2 linked regions of the Homo sapiens genome follow. The protein of the gene in region 2 purifies or fractionates together with the protein of the main gene of each other region. This does not show direct contact. Each region holds a gene or a part of one and is shown on either strand. Other genes may lie near its edges.

Region 1 (3,652 bases), on a different chromosome or scaffold from region 2:
TTGTACTCAATATTACTGAATAACCTAAGAATGCTTTCAGTTGTTGAGAAATGTAACTTTTAAATGTATTCAAGAAACATTTGTAGTGTACATATTATATATAGGGTATTGCACCAGGCAGTGGAGTTGGATACAAGCAGAGCAGGTATTGGTCCCTGACTTGAAGGATTCTAGCAAAAGAAACAGACAAACTGGTGCTTATAAGGGTTATAAGGAAAGTACAAGGTCCTATGGGACTGCATAACCAAAGCACTTACGAACTTAAAGAGACAAAAATTTCTGAGAGGAGGTCAATTAAGATGTGAACCTGAGTCCAGTATGGTGGCACCCAGTGGCAGTGTGAACTGTGAGGAGTTCGCCGAGTTCCAGGAATTACTCAAGGTGATGTGGACAGTTGATACAGACTAGTACATTAATTAAACACTACAGTTCCAACAGCTTCCTTTGCAGGGAAGATTGATGCCAGCCAAACCTGTAAACAACTTTGAGTCTTTGATGGCAGCTCATGCCAGTAGGGACAGAGTCATAAAAAACTATATAGCCCAGACCTCAGCAGTAGTAAAAAACCTCTGAGAAGAGAGAGAAAAGAATTTGGACGATTTAATATTGTTAAAGCAACTCAGAACAGAGCAGGCAAAGTTGAAATGGATGTAGTCAGAATGATAAATGACAGGAGCTGGAAGGAGTTTAATGAATGCTGCCGAATTCACTTCAAACCTCCAAATAAACAGAATAAACGGAGATACTTTTTTTTTTTTTAAAGGACCGGGTCATCTCATAAGAGCTAAGCATGACAAATGTCAACAGGGCGGGCTTCCTAGGATGATTTCTGAGCCAGTAGTCCAAGACCTTTTGTTGATTTCAGCCCCACTTAGGCAAGACCTCAAATATAAATAATTCTGATAATTATGGAGAAATCAACTGCTATTTTATACTGATTCTGTTAAAAAAAAAGTTTTGTAACTATTAAAATAATGTTCTGACTCAGTGTAAAAAAAGAAAAACCAAACCTGAAAAAAAAAATGGGAGGAGTTAGCTAGGAAAGAGTATCTGAAGGGGATGGAAAGGGAGGGAAACTCTCACAAGTAGAGGAATCAGCTTGTGCAAAGGCTTAGAGGTATAGAGAGCATCTTAAAAATATTTAATGTGGTCAGAATGTGGGGTTGGGAAGGGAAATGAAAGGATTTGTGATAAACTTCCCCTTTGAGAAGGTCATGTTTTTTTTTTCTTTTTCTTTTTCTTTTTCTTTTATTTTTTAAAATTTGAGACAGAGTCTCTCTGTGGCCCAGGCTGGAGTGCAGTTGCACAATTTCAGCGCACTGCAACCTCTGCCTCCCGGGTTCAAGCGATCCTCCTGCCTCAGCTTCCCAAGTAGCTGGGATTTCAGGCATGCACACCACTATGCCCAGCTAATTTTTGTATTTTTAGTAGAGATGGGGGTTTCACCATGTTGACCAGGCTGGTTTCGAACTCCTGACCTCAAGTGATTGCCCACCTTGGTGCCCCAAAGTGCTGGGATTACAGGCATGAGCCACCGCACCTGCCCGAGAAGTTCATGATTAGATATGAAGGCAACTAGTAAACATACTGGCCTAAAATAAATACAGTGTTTAATCTCTCTATCCAGTCCATTTATGCAGTTTCTTCAAAGCCAGTCTCAAGTGTTTCTCTGTGAAACGTGCCAAACCTCCTTTAGCTAAAATACATCACTCTCTCTAAATTCAGACCTTGTCTGTGTTAGGCTTTTGACAACTAATTACACTGTGATTGAAACCACCATTGCAAAATTATAACTGAGACAGTGAAAGAGATCTGACCTAGCCAAAAAAAGATGGAGCCAGGCATGATGGTTCACGTCTATAATCCTAGCACTTTGGGAGGCTGAGGCGGGCAAATCACTTGGGGCCAGGAGTTTGAGACCAGGCTGGCCAACATGGCAAAACCCCATCTATACTAAAAATACAAAAAAAAAAAACCAGGCATGGTGGTGCACACCTGTTATCCCAGCTGTTAGGCTAAGGCACAAATCACTCAAACCTCGGAGGCAGAGGTTGCGGTGAGCAAAGATCGAGATCGTGCTCCAGCCTGCGTGGCAACTAGACCCTGTCTCATAAAACAAAAATAGAAAAATAAAGCAAAGATGGTAACAGCCCTTTCCTAAAACAAACCCCCTTCTTGCCTGGGGACTAGACTGCCTTTGTAGGTTTAATGAATTAGCCACAGATTAGAAATTATGGTTTAGGAGTCGTGCAGCTGGAAGTTATAAGATTCTTTTTTTTTTTTTTTTTTTTTTAATTTATTTTTTTATTGATAATTCTTGGGTGTTTCTCACAGAGGGGGATTTGGCAGGGTCATGGGACAATAGTGGAGGGAAGGTCAGCAGATAAACAAGTGAACAAAGGTCTCTGGTTTTCCTAGGCAGAGGACCCTGCGGCCTTCCGCAGTGTTTGTGTCCCTGATTACTTGAGATTAGGGATTGGTGATGACTCTTAACGAGCATGCTGCCTTCAAGCATCTGTTTAACAAAGCACATCTTGCACCGCCCTTAATCCATTTAACCCTGAGTGGACACAGCACATGTTTCAGAGAGCACAGGGTTGGGGGTAAGGTCACAGATCAACAGGATCCCAAGGCAGAGGAATTTTTCTTAGTGCAGAACAAAATGAAAAGTCTCCCATGTCTACTTCTTTCTACACAGACACGGCAACCATCCGATTTCTCAATCTTTTCCCCACCTTTCCCGCCTTTCTATTCCACAAAGCCGCCATTGTCATCCTGGCCCGTTCTCAATGAGCTGTTGGGCACACCTCCCAGACGGGGTGGTGGCCGGGCAGAGGGGCTCCTCACTTCCCAGTAGGGGCGGCCGGGCAGAGGCGCCCCTCACCTCCCGGGCGGGGCGGCTGGCCGGGCGGGGGGCTGACCCCCCCCACCTCCCTCCCGGACGGGGCGGCTGGCCGGTCGGGGGGCTGACCCCCCACCTCCCTCCCGGACGGGGCGGCTGGCCAGCCAGAGGGGCTCCTCACTTCCCAGTAGGGGCGGCCGGGCAGAGGCGCCCCTCACCTCCCAGACGGGGCGGCTGGCCGGGCAGGGGGGCTGACCCCCCCCACCTCCCTCCCGGACGGGGCGGCTGGCCGGGCGGGGGGCTGACCCCCCCACCTCCCTCGCGGACGGGGCGGCTGGCCGGGCAGAGGGGCTCCTCACTTCCCAGTAGGGGTGGCCGGGCAGAGGCGCCCCTCACCTCCCGGACGGGGCGGCTGGCCGGGCAGGGGAGCTGACCCCCCCCACCTCCCTCCCGGACGGGGCGGCTGGCCGGGCGGGGGGCCGACACCCCCACCTCCCTCCCGGACGGGGCGGCTGGCCGGGCGGGGGGCCGACCCCCCCACCTCCCTCCCGGACGGGGCGGCTGGCCGGGCAGAGGGGCTCCTCACTTCCCAGTAGGGGCGGCCGGGCAGAGGCGCCCCTCACCTCCCAGACGGGGCGGCTGGCCGGGCGGAGGGCTGACCCCCCCACCTCCCTCCCGGACGGGGCGGCTGGCCGGGCAGAGGGGCTCCTCACTTCCCAGTAGGGGCGGCCGGGCAGAGGCGCCCCTCACCTCCCGGACCGGGCGGCTGGCCGGGCGGGGGGCTGACCCCCCCACCTCCCTCCCGGATGG
Region 2 (3,652 bases):
ATGATAGTTACTTCCCTTTACCCGAATATATTCAATATATCTCCCTTCATCAGAATCTGAAGTGCCACATGTACATAGCCTGTTGTCAAAGAGTGATTCAATTTCCTCTAATTTTTTGCCTTTGGTCTCAGGAAGACAGCCATAGATGAAAAGGAGTCCCACAGCAGCAAATCCAGCATAGAGGAAGAAAGCTCCTGCAACGGAATATAATAGATACATGAATATGAATATATAGAGAGAGGCTTAAGTTGGAAAGATTACTTGATTTTGACTTTTTTTTTCTGGTCAGTCATGCATAATCACAGTATGAAATGGACCAAAAAATTACTATGAACCTGGTTTACTCCAATTGTTCCAACTCTGAGAATATGATGTAATGTATCTTTCTAAACTCAAGTTTAGAAACTCAAGAATAATAGAACAGGCTCAGATGTAAGTTTGGCTTTGAAGCCTTTCCTCCCTTCCCTGACTAGAGGGAATTATTCTCTTCCATGTGCTATCACAGCATGTTGTTGAGACCCCTAAAATAACAACCAAGAAATATTATAATTATGTACACACACGTATGCTTGCCTTGTCTATTACACTAGAGGCACTTTGAGGTCAGAAGAAGTTCCTTTCTTAATTTGTTTTTCATTTCCCTCCACTAGAATGTAAACTCCATGAAGTCAGAGAATTTTGTTTTGCTGTAAGATTATGCATGTCAATGCAGAACAGCCAGAAACACATAAATATTAGCTAGTTTGGTTTTCTAAGGGTCATGATAGCAAGCCTAGATGGATGAGATATATGAATGTATGACTTGTTTATATTCTCTACACATTTCCAAGATGGACTTTTAAAATAATTGAATTCCGACCAGCCTGGCCAACATGGTGAAACCTGTCTCTACCAAACACACACACACACACACACATAATTGAATTGCCAATTTGAATATAAGAAACTATACTTGTACTTTTGATGGTGGAAAACAACAAAGTAAAATGGAGCCCCTGTCTAATTTTAGGCTTTCAGTCCAGACCATCATGTGTATGAGATGGGGGAAGTAAGATGAAAAACTAATGTGACAATTGGCTGGAGAAAGGATATCAGACTGGGAGTGGGAAGAACTGAGTTTAAGTGTTGGCCATGTGACTTCTGGATAGTCATTTAACCTCTTCTCTGGGCCTCTGTTGCCTCATTAAGTAAAATAAGGGGGCTTCTCAGCTCCTACTTAAGTGTTGGCAGTTTATGATTCTGTAAATCTTACAGCCAAAATCAGGGGCATGTATAGGAGATATAGTTAAGAGATGGTTGAGAGAGAGACTTGATCTGTGTAATGGGGAAAATAATTCTAGCTTTGCCCAACTGTAAAGAATAGAAATAATGTATGTTATCATGCCCATTAGAATTCTGAATATCAGTTGCTCAAAAAAGTGATGCCCAGATTGTTAAATTCTACTAAATGACCAGGAAAGGAAGAGTTGCTATTAAGATACAGAATAAGATTAGTGTGACTAATTAATTGGGATGTTTTTACAAAAAGGGTGATACTGATAAGCTAGCTCTTGGAGAATGGGGGAATTTTGACAAAAAAAAAATGAAAGGAGATGAAGTCCTGTGTTCTGAGTACAGATATGCAAGACTGTGGAGGTAGGAAGAGAAATGGAATCTTTAGCAGGGAGGGACAAAGACGGGATAGTAATTATGATGAAGATAAAGAAAAAATAAGTACAGATGGTAAAACATTTTAGATTAAACTAGGCTTCTAAACTACAAAATCTGTAACAGCAAACCCAGTTTGACTTTTAAATATAATAGTATATTTTATCTTCATCATTATCTTTCACAATTTGGGAACAGTAGCATAATTAGAAGTAACAAATCAAATCTGTCAGCGCTAAACTCACTCCTATAGTTAAAAAACATTTGTTGGGTTAGGAAGATTCCTGAAGTTGATTACAGATTCTTTCTTGTGACCTGGATTCCCAAAGCTGAATAATATCAAGGAATTGCTATTAAAATACAAGACCGTTTTACAAAATCTGAGGAATCCAAAGCACGCAAATGCCAAAACTGCCTACTCAGTGTGGGTTCCAATGGTTAGACCTGTGGCTAAGTCGTGGAGGAGTGTGGGCAGACCTGGGAGGCTGTGACCTGGTCCATGTCATGGTCAAATCAGTCACTATCTCAGTTTCTCATTTATTCCTCCCTTGGAGTGAAAATGGCAAGAAAAAATGTCTGTAACGAGTCCATCAGGACTATTGAACAGTTAGATATTCCTCACCTTTATTCTTCTAAGGATTTAAATCTTATTAGAGCCCTACATTAAGTTCCAGATTAAAACAACTATTTAATTGAATTACACAAATTGACTACCTCAAGAGAGAAGCTTTGACATAATGCCCCCCAAGGGATCTCTTTAGCCACATGTGCTGTATATAAAATGGCATATTGGTGATATAGCAATGATACTTTTTAGTAATAAACATTATTGAATGGGGGCACAAGGCAGACCTGTGTAAGCAATATGGTTGAGGAAGGAATCAAATTTTGAGATCTTATGAAACAATAAAAAAGGAGGCAACAAAGAAGACATAACTATTTCCAGAGGAATACACGATTAGGATGTATATTTATTAAATGAGGAATATAAATGCATAGCTTACATAAACCAGTAACATGTGGATTAAAATGAGACACAAAAAGGGAGAAAAACTAGCCTGAATGAACTATTTTTCTACTACTAGAGAGTAGTAGACCAAATGGACCAGTGCTCTGACATGAGAGAAGCTTAATGCAAAGCAACACACTTTTAACTGTTTATTTTTGAAAGAATTCTGCTTATGCCCTATTTAAATTTCATTACTGTTGCCTCATTTTTCTCTGGTTTTCTGGCAGGATAAATTCAAGAAAGAGGAGCTTTGCTGTCAAAAGTATAATCATGTAAACTTTTATTATTTGGTCTATGCCTTTCTATGAAAAATGCTTTCTCAGGATGCGAGCATATACTTAGGTCTTCAAATATTTAAGTGTTCTCTAGAATCAGTAAATACGAGGAAATATTTATTGTGCTCGTATTTATTATGTCATGAAGATAAGTTTATGAATTTATCGAAAAATTTTAATTGCCAAATGGGATCCAGCTGAATATACTAAATATATATCCAGTTTAAAATGCCAGTGCATTTCCTTTCCAAGAAAATAAATATTTCAAATGTCTTAAGTGGTGATTAGGAGAGAGAAGAGTTTTATGAAGATAATAAAAGCATTAGATAAATACCATTAACTAAAAGCAAATACCAGTTCAGCATGGTCAGAAGAGATGGGGAATAGATTTTTATAATGTTTCATCATATTCACCATTCATCTGCAAAATTTATCCATGTATTTATTCATTTGACAAACACTTTTTGGTGCTTATCAGGTGAACAGGATGCCTTGGCAGGAACTGGGAATGTAACAATGAACAAGGCACAGTCCTGGCCCTCCAGGGATTTATAGTCTACTAGAGAGAGCTAAGGGCAGACAAACCTGTTCTTGCAAAGAGAAATGATAAGTGGCCAGAGCACAGAGTAAAGAGATTGCGGGGAGATGAGAGAAGCTCTTCTGGGAGAATGGTCTAAGCAGCAGGCATTCCGTCTCTACCACATGGACTTATGAGGATATT

Evidence for each region.
Region 1: the proteins of SLC2A13 (region 2) and HIGD1A purify together in Homo sapiens (affinity purification with mass spectrometry; one large-scale study listed by BioGRID and IntAct). This does not show direct contact.

What each region holds. Positions count from the first base shown.
Region 1 is NC_000003.12:42,797,939-42,801,590, reverse strand, and holds part of HIGD1A (HIG1 domain family member 1A, mitochondrial), read left to right. Parts: intron 1-3,652. UniProt on the Homo sapiens protein: Proposed subunit of cytochrome c oxidase (COX, complex IV), which is the terminal component of the mitochondrial respiratory chain that catalyzes the reduction of oxygen to water. May play a role in the assembly of respiratory supercomplexes.
Region 2 is NC_000012.12:39,760,059-39,763,710, forward strand, and holds part of SLC2A13 (proton myo-inositol cotransporter), read right to left. Parts: intron 195-3,652; coding exon 1-194. UniProt on the Homo sapiens protein: H(+)-myo-inositol cotransporter. Can also transport related stereoisomers.